Homo sapiens: one gene and its partners. The protein of the gene in region 4 purifies or fractionates together with the protein of the main gene of each other region. This does not show direct contact. Each region holds a gene or a part of one and is shown on either strand. Other genes may lie near its edges.

Region 1 (2,831 bases), on a different chromosome or scaffold from region 4:
GAAATGCAAGTAAGACATGTGTAATACTTTTCCTGTACCCAAGGTGAACATGACCCAAATTTGCTGATCTCTAATTTCATGAACTATAAATGGGTTTCATTTTATAAAATAATTCATTTTCTAAGACATTTTTGAGGAGATAATACTAGATGGTTAAGTTCCCACAAAAAGTAATTTAATTTCATAGTAGAGAACAATTTTTATATTAATAGTTTTACAGAATCTCACATTTGAATGAATATGAATTTCGTTTCTTTGGGGAATGCCAGGGGAGTGTTAAAATGCTTTGGAGTTGTGCTTCTTACAGGCAGCACAGCATTCTCAGAAGCAGTCTACTGAGCTCTTCCAGTGCATGTACTTCAAAGACAAAGACCCTGCCACCGAGGAGCGTTGCATATCTGACGGAGTTATTTATTCAATTAGAACAAATGGTGTGCTTCTATTTATACCAAGGTATGTTACATCTAATGCAATGGTGCATAAGAAATCATAGTTAAAAGTGTAGAACACAAACTGTACATTAGATATAATTTATTAAAATATTTAAGCAACTAGTTATCATATGTACATAATGTAATGTATAATTCAGTATATAAATGTGAAGATTGGAGGCCAGGGGTGGCTCACGCCTATAATCCCAGCACTTTGGGAGGCCAAGGTGGGCGGATCACCTGAGGTCAGGAGTTCGAGACCAGCCTGGCCAACATGGTGAAACCCCGTCTCTACTAAAAGTACAAAAATTAGCCGGGCATGGTGACGCATGCCTGAAATCCCAGCTACCTGGGAGGCTGAGGCAGGAGAATCACTTGAACCCGGGAAGCAGAGGTTGCAGTGAGCCAAGATCGTGCCACTGCACTCCAGCCTGGGCGACAGAGCAAGACTCTGTCTCAAAAAAAAAAAAAAAAAGTGAAGACTGGAGTGTGTGTGTGTGTGTGTGTGTGTGTGTGTATATATATACACACACACTTCTATATCCATTTTAGGGTCTTTCTTATCCAGCAAAATACTTTGTTTCCATCTGCTAAGGTGAAATAAATACGTGGAGGTAAACCACAGGAAAAGTGATTTGTTTTTAATCTAGGAGAAAAACTAGTATTCTAGATAAGCATACAAGATCTGTGTACTAAGAATACATTGTCTCTGGATTTATATTCTGGTCATAATATAGGTTTGGGATTAAAGGTGCTGCTTATCTAAAAAATAAAGATGGTTTAGTCATCTCATGTGGCCCAGATAGCTGTTCTGAATGGAAACCAGGATCCCTTCAACGATTTCAAAACAAAATTACCTCTACTACAACAGATGGGGAATCTGTTACGTTCCATTTGTTTGACCATGTAACCGTAAGTCTGTGTTTCTATTAAGTATTATTAATATTTTAAATGTAAGGAATAAATAATGTGATTTAGTAATATGTATTTTCTTCTCTATGCTAGGTAAGAATATCCATACAGGCCTCACGTTGCCATTCTGATACAATCAGACTTGAAATAATTAGTAACAAACCATACAAGATACCAAATACAGAACTTATTCATCAGAGTTCCCCCTTGCTGAAGAGTGAGTTAGTGAAAGAAGTAACTAAATCTGTGGAAGAAGCTCAGCTTGCCCAAGAAGTCAAAGTAAACATCATTCAGGAGGAATATCAAGAATATCGCCAAACAAAGGGAAGGAGCCTATACACACTTCTAGAGGAGATACGGGACCTAGCTCTCCTGGATGTTTCAAACAATTATGGAATATGAGAGGCTCTTACTTCACTAAGAGCTGTCATATGTGAATGTTTTACAGTCTTTTCAAACTTAACATTTAATGTGTGTCACTCAGTGCTCTAGTCGATCAGGACTGGGTAGCTATTTCGCATATATGTAAAATGTTCTCAGCCGGGCACGGTGGCTCACGCCTGTAACCCCAGCACTTTGGGAGGCTGAGGCGGGCGGATCACGAGGTCAGGAGATTGAGACCATCCTGGCTAACACGGTGAAACCCAGTCTCTACTAAAAATACAAAAATTAGCCCGGCGTGGTGGCATGCGCCTGTAGTCCCAGCTACTTGGGAGGCTGAAGCAGGAGAATTGCCTGAACCCAGGAAGAGGAGGTTGCAGTGAGCCGAGATCGCACCACTGCATTCCAGCCTGGGCAACAGAGCGAGACTCCATCTCAAAAAAAAAAAAAAAAAAAAAAAAAGTTCTCTCATTCATTAAAGTTGCATTAAATAAAGTATAATTAGGTCACTATGGAAACAGAGTTTTCAGTAATGAGTGGACAGTAAGTGGTGGCTCTGCAGATGGCCCCTTTCTAATAAGTTTAATAAACCCGAAATTACTGGTTATCTCGTCTCCAATCAGTTCTTTCAAATGTTTTATTTTTCCAGTAATTACGTTTGGGTCATAGGCCCCTCTGACATTTGTCAGGTAATTTTCAGTCACTTTCAGATAATAAGACTTAGTCCTGAGTCCACTTCTCCACTTAAAAATTCCTATTTCATATTTGACTCAACCCTTACCTGCTGTCTCCAGTACTAGCTGGGATTAGGACACAGGGCGGGTGGTAGGATGCACAGGTAAAGTTCTGTCACAGGCCTTCCTTCCCACTCTCCCATTTTGATGAGGTGCATTGGCCTTCCCCTTGTTGGAAACTTGTTACTTTGCCAGCAAACACCCCACTAGAAAAATTAACTCTAGGCCGAGCGCAGTGGCTCACGCCTATAATCCCAGCACTTTGGGAGTCCGAGGCGGGTGGATCACAAGGTCAGGAGTTCAAGACCAGCCTGGCCAAGATGATTAAACCCCATCTCTACTAAAAATACAAAAATTGGCCAGGGACAGTAGC
Region 2 (9,859 bases), on a different chromosome or scaffold from region 4:
TCCTTAATGTTGCTGCGACACCCATGGTACTGCATTACTCTGCTCATGCTAAGGAAAGGAAAACCAAGGTTAGCTTGTAGATTTTTATTTCACTTGTTTACATTCTGTGAGAGAGAATGTTCAAATGATGTGGCTCAGACTGTTCCCAACACATCTTTTTTTTTTTTTTTGAGACAGTCTTGCTCTGTTGCCCAGGCTGGAGTTCAGTGGCATGATCTTGGCTCTCTGCAACCTCAACCTCCCGGGTTCAAGCGATTCTCGTGTCTCAGCCTCCTGAGTAGCTGGGATTATAGGCACATGCCAACAGGTCTGGTTAATTTTTGTATTTTTAGTAAAGATGAGGTTTTGCCATGTTGGCCAGGCTGCTCTCGAACTCCTGACCCGAAGTGATCTGCCTGCCTCCGACTCCCGGATTCAAGCGATTCTCATGCCTCAGCCTCCTGAGTAGCTGGGATTATGGGCACACGCCACCAGGTCTGGCTAATTTTTGTATTTTTAGTAAAGATGACGTTTCACCACGTTGGCCAGGCTGGTCTCGAACTCTTGACCTGAAGTGATCCACCTGCCTCGGCCTCCCAAAGTTCTGGGATTACAGGTGTGAGCCATGAGCCCAGCCTTTTTCTTTCTTTCTTTCTTTCTTTTTTTTTTTTTTTTTTTTAAAGAGACAGGGTCTTGCTCTGTTACCCAGGCTGGAATGCAGCAGTACAATCACAGCTCCCTGTAGCCTTGAACTCCTGGGCTCAAGTGATACTCCCACCTCAGCCTCCCAAGTAGCTGTGACTTGGGAGTGGTGCACCACCACTCCCAGCTACTTTAAAAATTTTTTGTAGGGATGGAGTCTCCCTACGTTGCCCAGGCTGGTCTTGAACTCCTGGGCTCAAGCGATCCTTCTGCCTTTGCCTCCCAAAGCACTAGGATTACAGGCATGAGCCGCCATGTCTGGCCCCTGATACTTTTTGATGAAACCAATAAAACTTGCACCCTAGCTGGGCGCAGTGGCTCACACCTGTAATCCTAGCACTTCAGGAGTGGTCACGACTTCGAGACCAGCCTGGCCAACATGGTGAAACCCCATCTCTACTAAAAATACAAAAAACTGGCTAGGCGCAGTGGCTTATACCTGTAATCCCAACACTATGGGAGGCTGAGGTGGGTGGATCACAAGGTCAGGAGTTCGAGACCAGCCTGGCCAACATGGTGAAACCTCCTCTACTAAAAATACAAAAATTAGCCGGGAATGGTCGTACATGCCTGTTATCCCAGCTACTGGGGAGGCTGAGGCACAAGAATCGCTTGATCTTGGGAGGTGGAGGTTGCTGCGAGCCGAGATCACGCCACTGCACTTCAGCCTGGGCGACAGAGCAAGACTCCGTACTCCCCCCCAACAAAAAAAAAAAAGCTGGTCGTGGTGGTGTACACCTATAATCCCAGCTACTCGGGAGGCTGAGGCAGGAGAATCGCTTGAACCTGGGAGGCGCAGGTTGCAGTGAGCCGAGATTGAGCCAATGCACTCCAGCCTGGGTGATGGAGCGAGACTCCATCTCAAAAAAAATAAAAATAAAAATAAAAATACCTGCTACTCTACAAGTTGTGGGAAAGAATCTTGGATCTGGCAAGGCGCGGTGGCTCACGCCTGTAATCCCAGCACTTTGGGAGGCCGAGGCAGGTGGATCACGAGGTCAGGAGATCGAGACCATCCTGGCTAACATGTTGAAACCCTGTCTCTACTAAAAATACAAAAAATTAGCTGGGCGTGTTGACGGGCACCTGTAGTCCCAGCTACTCAGGAGGCTGAGGCAGGAGAATAGCGTGAACCTGGGAGGCGGAGCTTGCAGTGAGCCGAGATCATGCCACCGCACTCCAGCCTGGGCAATAGAGCGAGACTCCGTCTCAAAAAAAAAAAAGAATCTTGGCTCTAAGTGTTCACGTCCCATTTAATTAAAAAAGATTTGTACAAAAGTCAATATATTTTTTCAGTACAAAAGTCAATACATTTTTTAAAGGCTAAACTAAAAATATACCAAGTAATATTTCCCTAATCAAAATCCATTGCTTCAATTTTCACATTTTATAGCTCTTCATACCACAGAAAATGTTTAAGGAAAAATAAATTTCAGGAAAAATTTATCTACTTCTTTGTTTTCATTTCTTTTCACTAACACAAGAAAACAAAGTACAGTACTTACCACTGAAGCAACCTGTCTCCCTGTGTTTCGCAAAATGCTTGGAAGCCAGGAAAACTTCGGTAAAAATCATACTCATCGCCAAACTGTGGTAGGCCCCCAGATGCCTTGGTGACTGCCACCACGGACCCAAGAGCAAACTGTCAAAAACAAGAAAAGATGGCATGTTTACACAGGGATCCCCATTCATTTGGTATGTCATTTTTTTGATCTATCGTATACAAGGTATCTACTCTTCATCCATCAAAAAAAGCACTCATTTAGTGCCAAACCCCAATCTAATCTAGGCCCTGAGAATACAATACTGAACAGGAAACCAAGTTTGGAGCTTATATTCTTGGGAGAGTTGAGAGACAGAATACATACGTATATAATCTGATTAATATTCACAAATACCTGGGGTTGAATCTTGACTCTGCTACGTATTAACTGAGATCTTGGACAAGTGATTGCTTTATTTGGACTTTAGTGTTCTCCTCTGAGAAACAGGAAAAATAAAAAGGGCCTGCACCACAGAGTTTTTGTGAGGACAGAATGAATAAGCTAATAAAAGCACTTAGGACAGTTCTTGGCACATAAGCGTTATTATTACGACTCAAGTTCAGATCCAAGAGCTTTCTACAGGAATTTGTTTTTGTGTTTTCATCTGGATGAGCATCTAAAAACAATACAAGCTTATCCTAGATCCTTGGACGACAAATTTATAACAGCTACTATCTAAAACTGGATTTGTGTTTATTGTTCAGTTAGTGTCAAGTGGTTCTCTATTTTAACTGTTGTGAGGTAACGAAAAAAAGCCGTGAAGTGACATAAATGATGGCTGATCATGTGAAGGCCTAAAACGTCATTGTGAGTTTTGTGAATAAACATTTCCCAAGAAAAAAGCAGAGAAAGGAGGTGGGAAATTAAGTCACGGAGGGGAACATGGTAGCTTATGAGCATGACCGCCACACAACCAGGACCACAGTTAGTGGTCCAGGAACTATTGAGAGCCATGTTAATGAATCAATAGCATTAGCTAACAGCAAATTAGATAAGATACAACGTTAGTGGAATTTCTGTAAATTTATAGGGTTAATTTACAAATTATTTTAGTTTCATTGCTTTGTAAGAGCTATGCACACCTTAAGCCTAGTTGTACGTTTGCTCATATTTAAGCTAAGTTATACAAAGATCTTAAGTGAACGCCCTGTATACCTTCCAGGAGTTACTAATAAACGTGCAATGGGGCTTTAACAGGTGACATTTAACTCAGGGTTAAAAATTATGTAGGACTGGACTTCAGAAACAGAGGAAGAGAAGGGCCATACTGGCCGCGGGAGGAGACAACTCCAGGCAAGTGTGGGGAGCGCGAAGAAGCCGAGCCCCTGCGGAGAGCTGGTCGGGTGGCTAGGGCGTGGCGAGCGCGACGTCGCAAGGGCTAGGGACGTCTGGGTGGCAAGGAAGCCTTTCCCAGGATGCGAGACGGCTTTCCACATTTGGGCCTCCATGGACTTAGGCTCGCAAGCGGGACGCCCCTCAGTGTCCGTTTCCGAGGCCCCATCCCCGGAGGGTGCAGGAGAGTCTGCGCCCAGCGCGGACAGGGGCCCCGCGACCCTCGCTCGGGCTCCACTACGGCGGGCGGGCATTGGCTGCCCAGAGGGCCCAGTCGGCTTCCGGCGGCCGCGGGCGACTCCTGGTACCCCCGAGGCCCCGCGAACTCACCTTCACAAAGCTGTCGGCGTCCGGGAAGCCTGGCAGCACCATCTCTCCGTCGGATTTGGTTGCGCTGGTCGCCGACAGGACCCTGGGCTCCCGGGTACTGGGTGGCGCCATTTTTTCAGCCTGCACGGCTCGTCTCGCGAGAGCTTGTCGGCCGAGGAGACGGGACGCGTGCGCACCACGCATGCGCCAGGTCGAAGCGGCGGGCGGGGCGTCTGATTATAGTGTGGGGAGCCTGCGATTGGGGTGGGGCGCCTGCGATTAGGTTGGGAAGCCTGCGTTTAGGGTGGGGCACCTGCGATTAGGTTGGGAAGCCTGCGATTAGGTTGGGAAGCCTGCGATTAGGGTGGCACTTTCGAGCGCTCTGGTGTGAATTTCACGTTCTTTTACCTCATATTGTATCATCCCAACAACCCTGTGATCTAGGGTGCGGCCTGGAGGACCTGACTATCACATATATTTTTGACACGAGGTTTGCCCAATCTGGTTTCGAACTCTTGGGCTCAAGAGATCCTCCCACCTTAGCCTGCGAAGTAGCAGGGACCCCAGGCGAGGGCCACGATCCCCGCTTATCCTCGTGTTTATTTAAAAATTTAAAAAACAAACAAACCGGGATTACCGGGAGTGGTGGTGCGCATCTGTAGTCCCAGCTGCTCGGGAGGCTGAGGTGGGATGGTTGCTTGAGCCGAGGAGGTGGAGGCTCCACTGCACTCCAGCCGGGGTGACAGGATGAAACCCTGTCTCAAAAATTTCTTTTTAAGGTTATGTTTTTGAGGCTGGGCGCCGTGACTCACACCTGTAATCCCAGCACTTTAGGAGGCCGAGGCGGGTGGATCACCTGAGGTCGGGAGTTGGAGACCAGCCTGGCCAACATGGTGAAACTCTGTCTATACTAAAAACACAAAAATTAGTCGGGCGTGGTGGCACATGCCTGTAATCCCAGCTACTCGGGAGGCTGAGGCTTGAGCCCGGGAGGTGGAGGTTACAGTGAGCCGAGATCGAACCACTGCATTCCAGCCTGGGCAACAGAGTGAGACCTTGTCACAAACAAACAAAAAAAACCATGTTTTTGGGACAAAGTTTCACTCTTGCTCTCCCAAAGTGCTGGGATTACAGATACGAGTCATCAGCGTGCAGCCTATTTTTATTTTTATTTTTTTTGAGATGGAGTCTCACTCTGTTGCCCAGGCTGGAGTGCAGTGACGCAATCTTGGCTCACTGCAACCTCCCGCCTCCCGGGTTCAACGAATTCTCTTGCCTCAGCCTCCCGAGTAGCTGGGATTACAGGCGTGCACCACCACGCTCGGCTAATTTTTTTCGTATTTTTAGTAGAAACGGGGTTTCACCATATTGGCCAGGCTGGTCTCGAACTCCTCACCTTGTGATCCTCCCGCCTCGACCTCCCAGAGTGCTGGGATTACAGGCGGAGCCACCGTGCCTGCCCTGTTTATTTTTTTTTTTTGAGACAGAGTCTCACTCTGCTGCCCAGGCTGGAGTGCAGTGGTGCAATCTCAGCTCACTGCAACCTCCGCTTCCTAGGTTCAAGTAGCTGGGATTACAGGCGTGTGCCACAATGCCCGGCTAATTTTTTTTTTTTTTTTGTATTTTTAGTAGAGATGGGGTTTCACCATGTTGGCCAGGCTGGTCTTGAACTCCTGACCTCAAGTGATCCACCTGCTTTGGCCTCCCGAAGTGCTGGGATTACAGGTGTGCGCCACCAGCGCCTGGCTTATTTTTTTTAGACTGCATCTTACCAACCTGGTCTCGAACTCCTGGGCTGAAGCCGTCCTCCCACCTCACTGGGATTACAGGCAGGAACCACTGTGCCCGGCCCAGCCTCATATTTAAAGTCACCTCCTCCCAAGCTCTGGCTGGTTCTGTGTTCCCCTCACCCATTTGGTCTTGACTCCTGTAATTAATTACACCTCCCCTGCCCCCTGGATCTATCTTTTCCCTCTCTATTGGTTCATTCCTAACAGCCTACAAGTACACTGACATCTTTCCCAACTAAAAGAGAAAAGGAAAAAACACTGGCTCCCACATCTCCTTCCAACTGCCATCATCTCTCTCTTGCCCTTTACAGGTAAGCTCCTGAAGAAAGCGTCTAGCTCCAACTGTGCTTCCTCCCTCCAGTACCCTCTGAACTCCTCCAAGCAGACGTTGTTTCCTGCAGACATCGCTGGAACCATTCTGGTTAACACAGAGTGGGAACTCAGTACACATTTGTGAAGTGAACTCCTGGAAGAGCTCTTGTGAGGGAGGCACCGAATTATCAGGCAGCTCAAGAGATAGATTCACTCTCCTGAAATTAGAGATGGGATGCCCTTAATACAATTCATTCCACCCATTAAGTCTTCAATAAATGTTCAGCATATCCAGTTAAGAGAATACTTGCTTTTCACTTTTTCCGTGTGTGTGCTTCAGGTACACAGGTACTCTGGCAGGACAAACGCCTAGTTCATTTAGTATTTTTGAGGACCTATTTCACGTGGTTCAACCTAATACCACATGTCAGTCAGGCTGTGCTAAATGCTCCTCCATGGATTATCTTGTCTTTCAGACAGCCTCACAAGGTAGGGCTTACCCACACTTTCAGAGGAGACAAGCAGAGAGAATCTACGTAACTTATCCAAGGTCACAAAGGTACTATGAGATGCAGTTGATATTTGAAACTTAGTAAGTTGACACTACAGCCTTGATTCTTTTTTTTTTTTTTTTTTGAGATGAAGTCTCACTCTATTGCCCAGGCTGGAGTGCAATGGCATGATCTTGGCTCACTGCAACCTCTGCCTCCCGGGTTCAAGTGATTCTCCTGCCTCAGCCTCCTGAGTAGCTGGGATTACAGGCGTGCACCACCACGCCCAGCTAATTTTGCATTTTTAAGTAAGAGATGGGGTTTCACCATGTGGGCAAGGCTAGTCTCAAACTCCTGACCTCGTGATCCACCCGCCTCGGCCTCCCAAAGTGCTGGGATTATAGGCATAAGCCACCATGCCCGGCCTCAGCCTTGATTCTTAAAAAATACAACTGGCTGGGCGCAGTGGCTCACACATGTAATCTTAGCACTTTGGGAGGCTGAGGTGGGAGGATGGCCTGAGCTCACCAGTTTGAGATCAGCCTGGACAACATGGCAAGAATCAGTCTCTACAGAAAATACAAAAATTAGCCGAGTGTGATGGCATGCACCTGTAGTCCCAGCTACTCAGGAGGCTGAGGTGGGAGGATAACTCGTGCCCGGGAGGTGGAGGTTGCAGTAAGCTGAGATTGCACCACTGCCCCCCAGCCCGGGTGATAGTGCCAGACCTTGTCTCCAAAAAAAAAAAAAAAAAAAAAAAAAAAAGAAAAAAATAGTTAACCTGTTAACAACATCTGGTGATTAGGGGCTCCCATCCCTTTGAGCAGTCGAAAATCCACATATAGCTTTTAACTCCCCCAAAACTTAACTAATAGCCTCCTGTTGACCAAAGGCCTTACCGATAACAAACGGTCAACTGACACATATTGTGTGTATGTATTGTATTCTTACAATAAATTACGAAAATTTTAAGGAAAATATATTTACTATTCATTAAGTGGATCATCATAAAGATCTTCATCCTTGTTTATGTATTTATTTTTAGAGATAGGGTCTCTGTCATCCAGGCTGGAGTGCAGTGGCACAATCATAGCTTACTGTAAGCTTGAACTCCTGGGCTCAAACAATCCTCTGGCCTCAGCATCCAGGGTAGACTGGGCCCATGCCACCATGCCCAACGAATTTTTTTATTTTTTGTAGAGGCAGGGTCTCACTATGTTTCCCAGGCTGGTCTCAAACTCCTAGATTCAAGCAATCCTCTCACCTTAGCTTCTCAAAGTGTTGGGGTTACGGGCATGAGCTGCCGTGCCTGGCTGGACTAAACTGTATTTAAAGGCCTCCACTAGCTCCTCCTCTGCCTTTGATAATTTGTCTCAACACACCCAGAAGGCTTTGCTTAGATATAACTTAAAACCTATCGGATTCACCAAAGACCTTAATCCAGACTCTTATATCCTAAAGAATATATCTTTATCACTGATGGCCACCATTTTCCTGCCTTTATCATTCTCACACCTTTATCGTTCATGAATAGTAACATCACTGTAGTCACTGAGAGTTATTTCATCTGGAGCCAGGAAAGTTATGGTGACCATATTTTCTGGAGCAAATAGGTGATACATGGTTTAGGACTGTAACAGAAAATCCAAGTAGGTATGTGACTTTCTAGCTGTGAGTGTTAGAACTGTTATTAGTATCACCATTGAGATTTAAATTCACCTTTTTTTTTGGAAACAGTCTTGCTCTGTCACCCAGGCTGGAGTGCAGTGGTGCGATCTCGGCTCACTGCAACCTTTGCTGCCCGGTTCAAGTGATTCTCCTGCCTTAGCCTCCTGAGTAGCTGGGATTACAGGCGCCTGCCACCATGCCCGGCCTTTTTTTTTTTGAAACGGAGTCTTGCTGTTGCCCAGGCTGGAGCATAGTGGTGCAATCTTGTCTCACTGCAACCTCCGCCTCCCAGGTTCAGGCAATTCTCCTGCCTCAGCCTCCCCAGTAGCTGGGATTACAGGTGTATGCCACCACACCTGGCTAACTTTTGTATTTTTAGCAGAGACGGGGTTTGGCCACGTTGGCCAGGCTGCTCTCCAACTCCTGACCTCAGGTGATCCACCTGCCTCAGCCTCCCAAAGTGCTGGGATTACAGGTGTGAGCCACTGCACCTGGCCACCAGTTGCCTTTTAAAAACACCACTCAGGGCTGGGCACAGTGGCTTCTCTGGGAGGCTGAGGGGGGCAGATTGCTTGAGTCCAGGAGTTCAAGACCAGCCTGGGAAAGATGGCAAAACCCCATTGTCTACAAAAAATGTTGCGGGAAGTCAGGAACCCTGAATGGAGGGACTGGCTGAAGCCATGACAGAATAACATAAATTGTGAAGATTTCATGGACATTTATTAGTTCCCCAAATTAATACTTTTATAATTTCTTACGCCTGTCTTTACTGCAATCTCTGAACATAAATTATGAAGATTTCATGGACACTTGTCACTTCCCCAATCAATACCCTTGTGATTTCCTATGCCTGTCTTTACTTTAATCTCTTAATCCCGTCATCTTCATAAGCTGATGAGGATGTATGTTGCCTCAGGACCCTGTGATGATTGCATTAACTGCACAAATTGTTTGTAGAGCATGTGTGTTTGAACAATATGAAATCTGGGCACCTTGAAAAAAGAACAGAATAACAGCAATGTTCAGGGAACGAGAGAGATAACCTTAAACTCTGACCGCCGGTGAGCTGGGCACAACAGAGCCATATTTCTCTTCTTTCAAAAGCAAATGGGAGAAATATCGCTAAATTATTTTTCTCAGCAAGGAACATCCCTGAGAAAGAGAATGCATCCCTGAGGGTAGGCCTCTGAAATGGCTGCTTCGGGGGCGGCCGTCTTTTATGGTGAAAGCTGTAGGGATGAAATAAGCCCCAGTCTCCCATAGCACTCCCAGGCTTATTAGGACGAGGAAATTCCCGCCTAATAAATTTTGGTCAGACTGGTTGTCTGCTCTCAAACCCTGTCTCCTGATAAGATGTTATCAATGACAAAGCGTGCCCAAAACTTCGTTAGCAATATTAATTTTGCCCCGGTCCTGTGATCTTGCCCTGCCTCCACTGCCTTGTGATATTCTATTACCTTGTGAAGCACGTGATCTCTGTGACCCACACCCTATTCGTACACTCCCTCCCCTTTTGAAAATCACTAATAAAAACTTGCTGGTTTTATGGCTCAGGGGGGCATCATGGAACCTGCCAACATGTGATGTCTCCTCTGGACACCCAGCTTTAAAATTTCTCTTTTGTACTCTGTCCCTTTTCTCAGACCGGCTGACACTTAGGGAATATAGAAAAGAACCTATGTGAAATATCGGGGGTGAATTTCCCCCAATATACAAATATTAGTTGGCGGTG
Region 3 (7,394 bases), on a different chromosome or scaffold from region 4:
AGTCTAAAACAAATCTCATTATGTTTCTTCTGTCTTTCGTATTGCCTAAGCCTGCTTCTTATACATAAATGCATCATGTACAATGTTTATATTGATAAATTACTTTTGACTTACAAAGCCCAGATCGTAACTCCCGAAATTAAAATAATTCAAAAGAATTTTTCTTGGGTTATGCACTTTCCTTGTCTAACTAAAGATGATACCCTAAGGTGAAAATGTGTGGACAAAAGTCACTCATTAAGAAAACTTCTTTTTACAAATTATTTTCAGATCATTTGGTTATTGGATTATATGAAGTGAAAAAAACTTCTTTGATACATTGTACTTGGTAAAAGTCAAATGTTATCAGATGGTGTTCAAAGTTTGTGTATTTTTTTTCTGTCTCACTTTCTCTCTTTCCCTCTCTCTTTCTTTTTTAACAGTTGGATCCACTTGAACAAGCAAAAGTGGATTTGGTTTCTGCATACACATTAAATTCAATGTTTTGGGGTATGTGTGTTACTTTGGAATTAATTAGAAAGCAAATTACTTATTGTGTGAAAGATGATTTATTTTTAAAATGCTAACAATTTATTTACAATTATACTTTATAACACTTTTAATAGATACTTATTTTTAAATCTAGATGCCAGTGAGCCACACATAGATTTAGTATTACATGGAAATTGAATAATTTAAAGTTTAATTGTTTGTAGGACTTTCCTTTTTTGTGAATAACTAGTTTCTTTAATTGGAATGTTTTAAATTAATACATTCACCATTTTATTCCATGAAATTTTTCTCTTGTAGTTTATTTGGCAACCCAAGGAGTTAATCCTAAGGAACATCCAGTAAAACAGGAATTGGTAAGATTTTAATTTCTTTTTATTTTATGTGTTTGTTGTTGTATTCCTGAGGTTTGTCACACTACCTTTGTCACACAAATTAGGGAGAACAGAATTCGAGTTGAAATTATGAAAGTGAGCCAGACCTTATTATCTTTGGGTTTTTTTTTCTCTTACCTTTTTCAGATAATTGGTATTCCATATATTATATAAATCTCGGAATGGGAAAATGTTACGATTCTAGTAATTATTTATAACTTACATATTATTTTTCTTATAAATTCTTGAAATCCTGTTTATCTCTAGAACTACTTTTTTTTTTAAACTTCTGTACAGTTCTTAAAAGTATATTCTAGTTGATTTACTAGCAAAGACGGGAAAGTTTCTCCCTCCCACCTTTTCAATTCCTCCATTAATTCATTTTCTCAGCAGTAAAGAATCCAGTTCAGCAACAAAGCTAAAAGCTTTTTTGGCACCAGCTGTATGTGTACTGTCCAGTAATTCTGCATTAGACATATTTACAACCTGTAATAAATCTTCTAGGTTTGTCTTTGTATTCCATTTAGATGTATAAGTACAGTATATAAGGTCTGGTATCTTGGAGTTTTTGCTGACTTCAAAAATTAAATCAAATCATTCAATTTGAAGAGAAAAATTAGAAATCAAACTTATGGTTACCTTCTTGACTTGGTTTTATGAATAAGAATATTAATAAATTGATTCTTTGTGTTTATAAAATATAAGGCAAATATAGATATGAAATACACTTGACATTGTATTCTTGTTCTCAAGTTTTAGGGTAGTTGATATGTATGTTATTTACAGCTTAGTAAAGCACTTGGTCCTTTACTTTTTAAAAATGAGTAAGCCAGATCTGTTGTCTTCAGTTTTTCAACATGTAGTCTAAGACATTTCCTTATTTTGAAGTTCTTGGGGGGGAAAATAAATTTATTTTTAAATAAAACAATTGTGAAAAATATTTAAAGCAAAAGTATAAAGCAATATGATATGCAGGTCTTGGTTTGACCAGTGATACGGCTTTAAACCTTTAAAATGATGGCTTGTATCATCTGTTTTCAACTTCCTAATATAGACTTTGCATACAATTTCTCTTTTTTCCATTAACATGAAGTTATTTGGAATACTTGATACTGTCTTTGTGAAAGGACAAGGTCATTTGTTTTCTTTCTACCTCAGAATCTACTTTTGAAGTAGTACATTAATATTCTAGATAAGGGTTGGTGAATAAAAAGCATGCATAAACCTCTTCCCCTTTTCTTTTTCTTTTTTTTTCTTTTTTTGAGATGGAGTCTTGCTCTGTCGCCCAGGCTGGAGTGCAGTGTCGTGATCTTGGCTCACTGCAAGCTCCACCTCCCGGGTTCACACCATTCTCCTGCCTCAGCCTCTCGAGTAGCTGGAATTACAGGCGCCTGCCACCACGCCCAGCTAATTTTTTGTATTTTCAGTAGAGACGGGGTTTCACCATGTTAGCCAGGATGGTCTCGATCTCCTGACCTCGTGATCTGCCCGCCTCGGCCTCCCGAAGTGCTGGGATTACAGAGCCTGTTCCCCTTTTCTGACCTTGCGTAGATGTTACTAATTGATCACAGACTTAGTGTATGATAGGAAACTTATTTGCCGTATGTATCACAAATGGGAAAAGTCAGTTTACTCATTCAACAGATATTTGAGTGCTTACTGGGAGCTAGGCATTATTTCCAAGTGAGAGATGATTCCTCTGTGAGTAATGCTGATCCCTGCCCTTGTGGCAGACACCAGACTGTATCTAATGGAGGGAGACAAATAATAAAGTAAACAAATAAGAAATATATATGAATATGTAGTATGTTGGAAAGTTATGGGAACAAAGAAAAAGAGTAGGGTAAGGGGGACTGGAGTGCTTGGATAGGACTGCAGTTTTAAATGCTGAAGTCAGGGCCTCAATGACAAGGTTAACATTTGAGTAGACTGGAAGGAAGAGAGGAAGTGGCCGTATGGGTAATTGAGGAAATATCCTTCTAGGCAGAGGAATAAGCAGGGCAAAGACCCCAAGGCAGGTTGGTGTGTGTGTGCTGTAGCTAGTATCCACCATCATAAGCACTGTGCTTTTTTATTCAGACAGAAATGGGACGTCACTAGAGAGTGTGGAGCAGAGTTGCCAGTCTTTCACAATGAAAACATTTTAAGATTCTGCATTAACTATGTTGATTATTTTAATAAAGCTTGTTTTTAAGCAGTGATCAGTCTTTTACTCTGCTGTTTTATGGCTGTCATCAACTTTATTTCTTCATTTGAAGCGTAAGATAGCCATTTATGCTGATTAATTGTCTCAGAAGATTCACAGTGGTACAGCAACATATTATGTTTCTCACCCTGTAAAGTCTGATTAGAACTGTATATTTTATTAGAAAATTTCATGTACTTACCAAAATTATAAAATTGAATAATTTGTATTTTCATTCTCCCTAATTGTTACACTAGATGGTAATGTGAAAAGATAGTTAAGTACTACCTCATGTATTTCCTGTTTAGAAAAATTTCAGGAGAATTTAGTTTGTATTTTGCAAGTATATGAAAGCTCCGGTTTTTTACTTTAGATACAAAACAGTTAATATGTAGATTTATGTTAATGGTGTTTTTCAAAAATGTATAACCACCTAGAAACTTTCAATTCGATGTTTATTTCTGGAGTAATGTCTTAGTGTGATTCTAACTCTTTGGAAACAGAAGACTTCTGAAATGACTTTTTAACATCTGTCTTTCCCCACCCTCCGACTATGAACTCCAGGCAAGCAGGGAGCGTATTTATCCTATTCATTTGCATTTCCTAGCACCATGCACTTTAATAGGCAATAAATACATATATGTTGAATTTAACCAAGGTGTACAGTATAATAAAATTCAGTGGTGGCGAATAGCTTAGTAAATCTATTGCCTTTGTTTTTTATCTTTAAGGAAAGAATCAGAGTATATATGAACAGAGTCAAGGAAATAACAGACAAGAAAAAGGCTGGCAAGCTGGACAGAGGTGCAGCTTCAAGATTTGTAAAAAATGCCCTCTGGGAACCAAAATCGAAAAATGCATCAAAAGTTGCCAATAAAGGAAAAAGTAAAAGTTAACTTTTTGGTTTTGATGTACACATATTCAAAAAGTACATCTTCCCCCCCCCCCCCCCCCCCGCAAAATAATTCTGTGGCAGGGCAAGGTTTAAATGTGTTTCTTATTAATATGTAAATTCACAGTAAATATGTAAAGCTAAATACTTTCCTCTCCAAAGATCATTATCTTTATTGATTAGCACTGAGGATTTTAACATTGTGATATATTATATATTTATAATTTACCATCTCTTGATGAGACTCTTATTTCTTTATATAGGTCAGTCTTGCAAGTACCATTTTATAAGCAGCTGTGAAATTTAAGTGAAATGTTCTTTGTAAACATTTGTACTATTTTAAATGAATAATGACCTTATGAAGTATGCTATCTGTAGGCTGAAATTATAGGTACATCTGTTTTCACTATATGATATTAAGAAAGCGTGAAATGACTTAAATGTTCATTTTTTTCTGTATAGATACTTTATCATGTTTTCATGATTTTAGGAATTACTGCTTTGTTGATATTCAAAGTGTGAAACTAAAACTTTATGGTTGTACTTTAATTCTTGGCATGTTGCCTCTATGTCCCATTTAAAATAAAATACATTCTCATTAACTTTAGATGGGAAATAAGGTTGTATGTTGATGGATGAATTTTGGCATGATGACTGTACTCTCAATAAAGGCTGAAAATGTTGTATAACTGACCTGTGTATTTTTATCTTTTGAGTAAATTTGCCTTCCAAATTAGGAAGATAGGTTTTAGAAGTCATCACAAATAGAGAAATTCTTGAGTTTTTGTTCCTGATGCATGGTGTCCACAGTTCTTTTCATCTCATTTTTTTTCAGATTTTTTTTATTTCATGTTTTTGAGGCTGTATCAAGTACATACAAGTGTTTTGGAACAACTTCTTAAGTTACCTAATGCCACTTAAGCAGATGAGAAGTCCAAAGGAGATTACACTGTGTTTGTATTGTGGTTTATTTTTCTGGAATATTAGTTACAGAGAGTACTACATAGTAAACCTTTTTTTAAATGTCTAAGCCCATGAATTTTAATTATATGCCCTTAATGCTTTCAGTGTTTGAATCCATATCATTATGTGTAGGAATGCCAAGTATAGTAAAGTACTTTAATTTTTGAAAAAGGAGTTGTTAAAATTTTCTGTGTGATTAATTCTCCATAAGTAACCTTGAATAAATGGATTTCTTGATTTATGATAGCAGATATTGGAAATGGTCTTAAAATGTAATGGATTTTGTAAAGCATGTTGAACTCTTTCTATGACACATGAAGAGGAAGTCACTGATAGACGCAGAAGGTCTTTTCTGTCTCTGATGTCAGTTTTTGAAGTGGAAGAACATTAGTGAACATTTATAGTTATTTTACTCCTTTTTTTGCCTTTGTCTCCAAATTTCTAGCTATTTTTAAAAATAACCTCTTCATGAGAGAAATGTGTTACTGTTAAGATCAAGTGTAGTGTACCTGTCTTTGTGTTATTTATTGCAAAGAAATTTATTTGGATTTCTGTATATTTTCTAATTTCATAAAAGAAAAACAGCTTAAATGAAAAATGTTATACAATTGCAGAAAATCATTATTGGTTTTAGCTAAGTTATTGGTTTATGAAAGTGCACCTCTACGTTCTGTTAAATTGTGTAACTTTTAAGTGAGTAATTCTTTCATTATTAGGTAGAAATAAAAGTTTGAGTATATTCCATTTTATTATGTATAATTTTAAATACTTAGCACGTAATAAGGAGCTGAATGGCTGTAGTGCATTGGGTTGCTTATTTGCTTGTTGTTTGTTTATTCTTTTGACAAATATACTTAATGACATTTATATTGCCAGATACAGTGCTAGGTGCAACGTTCCAAAGACGATAACTACGGCCTTTATCCTATCTTTATAAGGTGTTAAGAAAAAAATAGTCTTTTTATTCAATTCAGTTTCTCAGAGTTATGGGAAAATTTATGACAAATTGTGCTCATTAACCTTATTCAGAACCATAAAGGGTGATGTGTGTGGTTGATCTATTTGACTATGGTGCAGTTCTTGTTAAAATAGTTTGTTCCACATGATAGTCTGCTCTAAGTTTAGATGTTAATTACATCTTTTATTAATCTCTTTGGGAATTAACAAGTTGGAGAAGTTGCATCTATAGATATTTTTAAGATTAGAATTATAGTCTATTAATCTTGTACTAAATAATGAGATCTTGCATTTTAATATTATTTTAAGTACAAATTTTTTCTTGTTCATAGTTGTAAGGTGGGAAATCCTTTTAGTAAAACAGAATATGTTGAGTGAAAAATTGAAGCTTGAATTATGTTACATTCCTGGAATTAGGAAGTTATGTCAGGTTGATTAGTTTTAAGATACCCTGTAGATTAAAAAATCCTTCTACTTAGCAATTAGAAATGGATTGGCATTATTTCTAAATAAGGTATTTAAAATTGACCAGAAGTGTAGGAAAGACTTCAAAAATGGACAGCGTATTGAATGTAAATACTTTTTTCTTAAGTAGGTCACTGGAGAAAAAGATACTTTAGGAATCACTCAGTTTATCATACAGTTAAATTATAATTTTATTCAATAAGTTACCAGAAATTCTGGCTTTGCAAAGTGACATTAACTAAGAAAGATGTGAACAGTGACTCAGCCTCATGTAATAGCTAAATTTGGTATCTAAAGGGAAGAAAAAGCACTGATGTCTCATTTTCTCCCTTCATAGCATAGTTAGAAAACCTGCTCAGATAAATTCAGTGGCTCTTTTCCTGAATGATCTTGGTAGCAACGTATTTTATATCAATGTGACGTGAACATAATTTACAAATATAAACATCTATCTTTCCCTATATTCTGATCTAAAACTCTCCAGTTTTGGAAATACAAGCCATATTTTGTTCATATATTAGCATTTTATAGTTGTCATTAACAACTATGTTGGCAGAAAGTATACAGGATTTTATAATGGAATTCTGTAGATTTGTTTCATTTGAATAATTTGCTATTATATTACCTGTTAGCGGGCTTTCAAGAAAATGATTTGAATGTTTTTTGGTTTGCATATTCATTTTCCTATCAAAGTGGGTGTACAGCCATAGACTACTCTTTAGAATAGCCACCCTCTGACTTGATGTGCCTTTTTAAAGTGCTTATTTATGGCATAACTTTTTATTATTCCCTCAAGAAGTCTGAGATTATGGCATAATTTTTAACACAGCCAGAAAGATTAGTAAAGTGTTCAGAAAAGAGAGAGCTATAGTGATAGCTATTGGCAATTGAGGTTTAATTTTTAACTTTATATCTCCCAACTCCCTGCCCAGCTAGAAACCTAAAGCCACCAGCTCTGTGTTAGTCATCTGTTCTTAAAAGGTTGAAACGAGATGCTGGTTTTTACTCCCTCTCCCCACAATTAGCCTTGAAGTTTAGCAAATCTATCATAGCAGAATAACTGTATGCA
Region 4 (8,991 bases):
AATTAGCTGGGCTTGGTGACACATGCCTGTAGTCCCAGCTACCTGGGAGGCTGAGGCAGGAGAATTGCTTGAGCCAGGAGGTGGAGGTTGCAGTGAGCCGAGATCACACCACTGCACTCCAGCCTGGGTGACAGAGTGAGACTCCCATCTTAAAACAAAAAACAAAAAACAAAAAACAAAACATTACTATTTGAGACTGTCACTACAACAGTTACTACTGTTACTACTTGAGACTGTCATTACAAGACTTACTACTGTCACTACTTGAGACTGTCATTACGAGACTGAACGAAAACGGACGCATGCAGAAATGAAAACTTAAAACAAAAGAAACTGTTTTAAAGGAAGGGACCAGGGGAAAAAGAAGAGGGCTCCTTGCTTCTAGTGAGCAAAGGCAGCAGCCCCTGAGCTTCTGCAGCCCTTCGTATTTATCGGGTAGAAAGAGCAGGGAGAAGGAGGTAACAATTGGTCAGCTGCTTGATTGATCACAGGTTCACGTTATTGCTAACAGGCTTCACATGTGCCTAACCACAAGAAACACCTGTGCCTGGGTTGTGACTCCCCTCAGCATTCCTTCTGGGCGGCAGATGCAGTTTGTCAGTTTGCCAACATCCTGCTTTCATGAGAAACAGTTTGCTGTTTACTCATATAGCCTTCAGTTGTATGCTGAGTTGATCATGACCCTCATTCTTTTGGCCTTCAACATATGCCCTGCCAAAAGGATTCAAATATTGTTAAAACTCTTTGAGAGAAAAACAAAACACAGCTTGCTAGCCTGTTTAGTTCCTCTCTCATAACCTCTATCACCCTCAATCCATCCAAATAAACTCTCATTCTAAGTAAACGCAGTGTGATTACCAAGCAAATGCAGCCTTCTGAGTTCTTCAGTCCCTTTCGGCCAGATTACTGATCCTAAACTCTTCCTATTTATAAATTCCAAAAGGTCTACTGAACAGAAATCATCTTTATCCAAACTCTTGCCACTTTTAAATGTGATCCACTGCCCAGCAGCATCAGCATCACCAGAGAGCCAGTTAAAAATGCAAATTTCCAGGTCTCTCTCTCCTGCCTCCTTCTTGGGCTCACCCAGCTAATCCAGGATAACCTCCCCATTTGAAAACCCATAACTTAATCACTGCTGCAAAATAACTTTTGCCATATAAGGCAACATATTCACAGTTTCCAGAGATTGGAATGTGGAAATCTTTAAAAGAGGCCATTGTTTTGCTTACTATACAACACTATAAGTTATTTACATGACAATTAGTTTAATTCACAATAGCAAATTCCACTTATTTTATTTGTAGAAAACTAAGTGACAACTTTTCTAGATCATATTTATTGCTTAGACATTAAACAATATAATTTCCTACAGATTTCTATCGATGAGCATGAATCTTCTTTTAATAGATGAGAACAAATCCAAGGGCATCAGTGATGTGTCCAAGATAGAGCCATATGCATAATCTAAGTGAAATGAAAATGTCCCTTCCCTGAATTATCTTCTAATTTGTTGTATTTTTGATAAGCTGAAAATGGATAATTTTTTATTCCTCTAAATACATTGTAAAGCCTTAATAATAATAATATAGCTTCCTGGACATAACAAATGATATAATCAGAGTCAAAGGAAAAGCTCTTTTCAATATCCAAGGAAGCTAGAGATGGACTGGATAATCTAATGGACTTAAAAATCTATAATTCCCATAAAACATATGCGAGGGAAATTTGCACTACATTTTTTTTTTTTGAGACGAAGTCTCACTCTGTAGCCGAGGCTGGAGTGCAGTGGCGCGATCTCGGCTCACTGCAAGCTCCGCCTCCCGGGTTCACGCCATTCTCCTGCCTCAGCATCCTGAGTAGCTGGGACTACAGGCACCTGCCACTACGCCCGGCTAATTTTTTTCGTATTTTTAGTAGAGATGGGATTTCACCATGTTAGCCAGGATGGTCTCAATCTCCTGACCTTGTGATCCACTCGCCTCAGCCTCCCAAAGTGCTAGGATTACAGGCGTGAGCCACCGCGCCAGGCCTGCACTATATTTGACATATTCAGTTGTCAATACATAAAATCTTTTCAACATATTAACTGATAAGTGGTTTCCCGTTTGAATCTTGAAAAAAAACAAAACAAATGTCTTTGTTAAAATGTAGTTGAAAGTCAAAATTCCCTTAAATAAAAAAATTAGCTAAGTATGGCCAAACAATAAAAAGAAAACATAACACCTTTTTACTTTTTACTTTTTCTGATAATAAAAGCTATTCACATGCCTTACAGAAGATTTGGAAAGTTCATAAAGAAAAAATAGCAAAATGAAATAAAAACCTTTTCCCAAAATCCTATCACTCAGAGATAACCATTTTTAATATTTCATATTATACCCTTCCAGGATAACTTTTGGTACACCAAATTCTATACAGACAAATTGTACAGCAGATATATGGTAAATAAAATGGTAAGCTTTCATTTGTTCACTCATCCACCCATTTTTTTCTTTTTTTTGAGATGGAGTCTCACTCTGTCATCCAGGCTGGAGTGCAGTGGCACAATCTCAGCTCACTGCAACCTCTGCCTCCCAGGTTCAAGTGATTCTCCAGCCTCAGCCTCCCGAGTAGCTGGGATTACAGGTGTGGGCCACCATGCCTGGCTAATTTTTGTATTTTTAGTAGAGACAGGGTTTCACCATGTTGGTCAGGCTGGTCTCGAACTCCTGAACTCAAGTGATCTGCCCACCTTGACCTCCCAAAGTACTGAGATTACAGGCATGAGCCACTGTGCCCAGCCTTTTTTTATTTTTGAGATGGATTCTTGCTCTATTGTTCAGGCTGGAGTGCAGTGGTACAATCTCAGTTCACTGCAACCTCCATCTTTTGGGTTCAAGCGATTCTCCAGCCTCAGCCTCCTGAGTAGCTGCGATTACAGGTGTGTGCCACCATGCCCAGCTAATTTTTGTATTTTTAGTGGAGACGGGGGTTTCACCATGTTGGCCAGGCTGGTCTCAAACTCCTGACCTCAAGTGATCTGGCTGCTTTGGCCTCCTAAAGTGCTGGGATTACAGGCGTGAGCCACCGCACCTGGCCTCCACCCATTAATTCTTTCACCAGATGTGCTAAGTAGGCCATTCATCCTTTGATTCACAAGGTACACTACCAGTCTCAGTGGGTGCTACAAAGGTGAAGAAGACATAGACTTTATACTCTAGTAGAAATGTACTAGAATTCCTTCGGACACACTTTTACAAAGACCAACTCAAATGTATTGGCTCACTAGAATCGCATGGGGTCAGGAAAGGGCATTTCTCCAAGAAATAGAAGGCTGCTGGTCAGACAAAGCAACTGATGTTCAATAAAGAGAATGCACACTCAAATAGTTTGTTGAGAACTAGGTTATTTTTAGACAGATCATCCAGATTAATATGCTGATTCCAACTGATTCTTCTTTTAAGAACAGAAGGTGAGGCCAGGTGCGGTGGCTCACTCCTGTAATCCCAGCACTTTGGGAGGCCAAGGTGGGCGAATCACCTGAAATCAGGAGTTTGAAACCAGCCGGACCAACATGGTGAAACCCCATCTCTACTAAAAATACAAAAATTAGCCAGGCGTTGTGGTGCATGCCTGTAGTCCCAGCTACTTGGGAGGCTGAGGCAGGAGAATTACTTTAACCTGGGAGGTGGAGGTTGCAGTGAGCCAAGATCATGCCACTGCACTCCAGCCTGGGTGACAGAGTGAGACTCTCTCAAAAAAGAAAAAAAAAATAATAGAATGTATCACATTACCTGACACATTATCTGAACCTCTTCTTAACCTTCCAAACTTATTTTTCCCTGAAATCATGAAACAAATTTTCCTTTGGCATTCAAAAATTTCTTATAAACACAAGGTTGTAAAGTACATATATTTTAGGATGGTATGTAGATGTAAGTGGAGATGGGTCATACACCTTTGGATTAACTCGAAAATAAAAAGACAAAAGCAAGAGTGTTTAAATTAGAATATAAAAGTGAAAGTAGAAAAGAACAGTGGAAATTCAACAAAAGTGGAAGGAAAGCAAAGTAATCAAGCAGCAGTTTCAGAAAAGCAATCTGTCATGCTGAGTTTGGGCAGTTTCATGGGAAGCCTTTGCCAACCCAACAAGAAAGGAGGAAACTAACATTTGAATAGCTATCATGTCCAAAATGTTTCATCAGATGCTTTCATTCAGACCACTTAACACAGAATAATTGTTATTTCCAATCTGAAGATACAGAACCCCCAAATCAGAAAGAATATTTAGCTCACTCCAAGTTCATTTGAGCTGAACTTTATCTGAAGCCAAAGTCCATTCTCTTTCCATTACCAAGCTGCCTTGCAGTAAATAACAGGCTATTTCAACAAAGGTCTATTTCATCGCTGAAGGGAAAAATTACCAAATGGCCACTGAAAGAACTCAAGGATTTAAATGAAGAACTTATCAACCAGGAGTTCTGGTATGAAACTGTACTATAAAAATGAATTCATGTTGCTAAAGAACTTAAGTGGTTAGTACCCTGTAATCCCCTTGCCGATTTTGAAAATTAATCATTTCTGTCCACTTTCCTCCTTCTTCACAATTTCTCTCTCCAGACCATGTGGAGCTCATCTCATCTCAGTTTTTGCATATGTTACTCTTTCTGCTTGAAACACTTTTCCTCTCCAGATGGCATCAAGGGTGCTCCTGCTCAACACCAAAGATTTACTTTACTTTAATGTCACCGCTACAAAGTCACCTGTTCCTGCAACTACCCCTATTAAGATAGCATTCCTATTCTCAGAGAGCACTTAACACTGTATGAAATTGTTCTATTTGTTTAGGGTTTTTTGCCTTTTCCAAAAAGAATATAAATTCCTTGAAAGGATCTTGTCTACCCTGTTTCTCCAGCACTTAAATTATTCTTGGACAGAGTAGGCCCTCTTCAAGTATTTATTGAGTACATGGATTGCAAGTGGTACAAAGTGAGACTAAAATGTATCACTGGTAGAAAAAACTTGTGAGAAGCTACCAAAGAAGCCAGAGAAAGACTGCGTAGGAGTTACAGTGCCTACCACCTCTAAAGCAAAAGGAAACAAAATAATAATATGCAAACACTTAAATAGTGCTTATTCCATGCCAGGCACTGTTCTAAACATTTTATGTATATATTAACTCATTTTTATTCCTCAGAATAAATAGGTTTCTCACTTCCCCTGCTTTGTTTTTGTTTTTGTTTTTTTTTTGCCGGTGAGTAATGTGAAGCACACAGGTTAACTTGCCCAGGGTTATAGTAGTTAATGATAGCCTTAAAATTTGAACCCTGGCAGTGAACACTTTTTAAAACTACTATTTGATACTGCCTCTCCAAAAAAGCTGAGTGGTTGGCAGCATGGCCCCGCTAAGGCTTCTCTGTGACCGTAAAAAAAAGTCTATCGACTTAAAATAACTGGAGAGGGGATAAGAAATAAACGGTGCATTTACTTTCAGTCCACAGTAGTAGTAACATCGTTAGTTACTACGTGCGAACATTCTCCATTCTCATCAACTTCTCAGATCCCACAAGATTTCACCTTTGGCCACAAAAACATCCCATTTCACCAATTTATCTTTCTCCCCCAACCCTTATGCCGCCTCATTCCAGTGTTTGTTCATTTAATCTGCTCCAAATCCTGCATCTGCGGCTTTCCAGGGACCAATGTCAACTCATCTGTGAAATTGCAGAAGTACATGTCTAGTCTCCACCCCGTGAGAGGACTGAGCAAAGGGTGAAGTGTGCGAGCGGTCTACTGATAATAATTTCTATCACTCTCATGGTTATTTTAAGTATCCTTTTCTCCTCTGCACTTTATGAGAAAAGAAACGGAACTTCACGTTCAGAAACGGCCTCCCAAAGCCGCAATGGCTTCTCGCAGCTCGCTGGCCTTCCCCAATCACGCTTTGAGTCTGCGCAGTAGCTGCAGCCCAAGCCATTTCCCATTTTTCCGCCGCCGCGCCTTGATGACGTAATTTTCCTGCGCCTCGGGGCGAGCAGCGGCGCGCAAGGAAAGATCGGGTTCCGTTTTTCCCGCGGATTCTGGTGCCTGTGGGGCCGGTGACCCAACACCATGAAGGAAACGCCACTCTCAAACTGCGAACGCCGCTTCCTACTCCGTGCCATCGAAGAGAAGAAGGTATGGTTTGGTGCCCGCAGAATTGCGCGCTGCGTGGGCGCTCGGGTCTCAAGGTGTGGACTGATACCTGGCCCGCCTGGGCCCGGGGAGCTACTAGGGGAACGACCGGCACGTTCACCCCATCCCTCAGGCTTTATTTATTTTTTTTCGACAGGTTCTTTTCAAGGCTCCAGTCACCGCAGCAGTTGTCCATGCTGTAGTTTCCACTTTCCTGTATGGGCGGGCTGGTTAGGATTCCACTTTCCCCCAAGTGCTTAGCCCAGGGCCAGACAAAAAGTAGTTGCTTAAGAAATACTTGTTGAAGGAATAAATTAATGAATGAATTTGTGCTTACAGCGGCTGGATGGCAGACAAACCTATGATTATAGGAACATCAGGATCTCATTTGGAACAGATTACGGATGCTGCATTGTGGAACTTGGAAAAACAAGGTAACAGGATTTAAATGAGATACACATTCGGAAGGGAGAAGTTTGAAAAAAGACCTTATTGACTTGGTTGTTTATAAAGCAGCTAAGAAGTCTGGACAGTATTCTTTGTTTAGCTGACAAAAATAAGTATTTTTTTATGCGAGATTTTTTGCTTTTGTGGTCACACTTGAACTTTTTAATCATAAACGTATTTTCTGTCACGTATCACATAGTTCTTTTCTGACTTCTATAAATCGTATAGACAACTAGTAGTGATCATATGGAATTTGTTTCTCACACTAATATAGAGATCTTGAGCATCTTGTCATTAAGTGTACATCCTGCTTTCTTTTTCCTGAGTGACATGAAAATTAGGTTTTCAGATATTCATTTGAAAGTTGTGAGGCTATTTGGTCACATAATGGTGGTGAACTATGCCATGTGAAAACCTTTAAGAAATCTCAGGTTTTCATGCCATCTTGTATCAATAAATACTTGCTTTAGAGGTAAAGGTCACTGATTTTTAAAACAATCTGTGGAATAGTAAACATTGTAATAAGAAGAGAGGTGTTTTTTCTGTCGTGTTTTTAGTTGTACCAATTTATGTTTTATTTCTGTGTATATTATACTTTACATATAATTTTTATCTCCTATGATTTATTTGGCTGAGTATGATATTACTCACATTAAGATTGAAACTTGTTATCTGTTTCAGTTTTTTGTTTTGGAAGGAGAGTCTATTTGGTTAATACTTTGTAACTTTATCTTTGCAGAGTTCTTGGACAGGTTTCCTGTGAACTTGTGTCTCCAAAACTCAATCGGGCAACAGAAGGTATTCTTTTTTTTAACCTTGAACTCTCTCAGATGGCCGCTCCAGCTTTCGAACCTGGCAGGTATTTAAATCTTTTTCTTAAGTTGCTTTAGTCATAGGAGAACCTAACAGCAGTGAGCTTTTGTTTTAATACCTGGTGTTATATTTCATGACATTAGCCCATTCCTATTTTCTCCTTATAGGCAGTCAGATCTCTTGGTGAAGTTGAATCGACTCATGGAAAGATGTCTAAGAAATTCGAAGTGTATAGACACTGAGTCTCTCTGTGTTGTTGCTGGTGAAAAGGTGGGGAATATGCCCATAATTCTTAATCTTAGGATGAATACTGTTGATCATGGATCCCGGTATCTATCCTTTTATTCTCAGAACTTTAGTTAACTCAGTATTGTACTGGTTTGCTTCACTTCAGATGTTCTTGAGTGATACCCTTAGAACTTTGTGCTACCTCTCTCTCTCTGAAGGGACAAAAAGGGTGTCCCTTCAGAGGACACCCTTTTTCTTAAAGGTTTCTAAAAGGTTTTCACCCTTTATCTTAAAAGGGTGAAAATAGCAACTTAGATTTTTGTGTAAAAATATTTTATTCAAAGAACTTGTGGCTTTTTCATATAATCTCTCATTTTCTACATGAGTTCATAGAAGCAGGTAGTTTTCCTTTTTCATGCAGAACTCAAGAACAGATGAAATCCTTCATTTGGATAGGTTTATCGATTTACACAGGGCCACACCATGTCAGTGGCAGGGATAACTTTGAAAATCTTAGTCCCAATAAATTGTGCTGCATTAGGATATTAGAATTTTATTTTATTTTATTTTGTTTTATTTTTTTGAGATAGAGTCTCACTCTGTTGCCCAGGCTGGAGTGCAGTGGTGCAATCTCAGCTCACTGCAACCTCTGCCTCCCCTGTTCAAGCGATTCTCCCACTCAGCTTTCCGAGCAGCTGGAACTACCGGCGCCTGCCACCACGCCCGGCTAATTTTTGTATTTTTAGTAGAGATGGGGTTTCACCAGCAGGCTAGTCTTGAACTCCAGACCTCAAGTGATTCACCTGCCTTGGCCTCCCAAAGTGCTGGGATTACAGGCGTGAGCTACTGTGCCTGGCCAGAATTTGATTCTTGATTAGGGTATTTTGACAAGCATTTTCATCCCAGAGAAGTCATTTAGCTTCCCATATTCCATACCTAAGCATAATACTTCCTATTTGCATTACTTGTAAGGTTATTAAAAATATCACAAAACCTAAAAGTTTAATTTTTTTTAATTTTTGAAAACTTTCATTATTTTCTCTGAGGGACAGGGTGACACTCTCGTCCAGGCCGGAGTACAGTGGTGTCATTATAGCTCACTGTAATCTTAAACTCCTGGGCTCAAGAGATCCTCTCTCCTTAGCCTCCCGAATAGCTAGGACTATAGGCGCGTGCCACTCCACCCAGCTAACTAAAAAACTTTTTTTTTTTTTTTTTTGTAGAGATAGGGTCTTGCTGTGTTGCTCAGGCTGGTCTCGAACTCCTAGGCTAAAGCAGTTCTGCCACCTTGACCTCCCAAAGTGCTGGGATTACAGGTGTAAGCCACTGTGCCTGGCCTAGAGTTTG

What was found.
Region 1: the proteins of EXOSC9 (region 4) and DIS3L purify together in Homo sapiens (affinity purification with mass spectrometry; 3 studies listed by BioGRID and IntAct, with this or other methods). This does not show direct contact.
Region 2: the proteins of EXOSC9 (region 4) and EXOSC10 purify together in Homo sapiens (co-immunoprecipitation; 7 studies listed by BioGRID and IntAct, with this or other methods). This does not show direct contact.
Region 3: the proteins of EXOSC9 (region 4) and C1D purify together in Homo sapiens (affinity purification with mass spectrometry; 3 studies listed by BioGRID and IntAct, with this or other methods). This does not show direct contact.

What each region holds. Positions count from the first base shown.
Region 1 is NC_000015.10:66,331,568-66,334,398, forward strand, and holds the end of DIS3L (DIS3-like exonuclease 1), read left to right. Parts: exon of another isoform or gene 1-301; intron 302-307; coding exon 308-453; intron 454-1,168; coding exon 1,169-1,343; intron 1,344-1,436; coding exon 1,437-1,745; 3' UTR 1,746-2,331; downstream 2,332-2,831. UniProt on the Homo sapiens protein: Catalytic component of the RNA exosome complex which has 3'->5' exoribonuclease activity and participates in a multitude of cellular RNA processing and degradation events.
Region 2 is NC_000001.11:11,095,834-11,105,692, forward strand, and holds the start of EXOSC10 (exosome complex component 10), read right to left. Parts: upstream 4,037-9,859; 5' UTR 3,999-4,036; coding exon 3,888-3,998; exon of another isoform or gene 3,842-3,887; intron 2,324-3,841; coding exon 2,187-2,323; intron 49-2,186; coding exon 1-48. UniProt on the Homo sapiens protein: Catalytic component of the RNA exosome complex which has 3'->5' exoribonuclease activity and participates in a multitude of cellular RNA processing and degradation events.
Region 3 is NC_000002.12:68,039,439-68,046,832, reverse strand, and holds the end of C1D (nuclear nucleic acid-binding protein C1D), read left to right. Parts: intron 1-422; coding exon 423-489; intron 490-789; coding exon 790-845; intron 846-3,779; coding exon 3,780-3,944; 3' UTR 3,945-5,703; downstream 5,704-7,394. UniProt on the Homo sapiens protein: Plays a role in the recruitment of the RNA exosome complex to pre-rRNA to mediate the 3'-5' end processing of the 5.8S rRNA; this function may include MPHOSPH6.
Region 4 is NC_000004.12:121,795,332-121,804,322, forward strand, and holds the start of EXOSC9 (exosome complex component RRP45), read left to right. Parts: upstream 1-5,991; 5' UTR 5,992-6,093; coding exon 6,094-6,159; intron 6,160-6,495; coding exon 6,496-6,590; intron 6,591-7,342; coding exon 7,343-7,462; intron 7,463-7,583; coding exon 7,584-7,686; intron 7,687-8,991. UniProt on the Homo sapiens protein: Non-catalytic component of the RNA exosome complex which has 3'->5' exoribonuclease activity and participates in a multitude of cellular RNA processing and degradation events.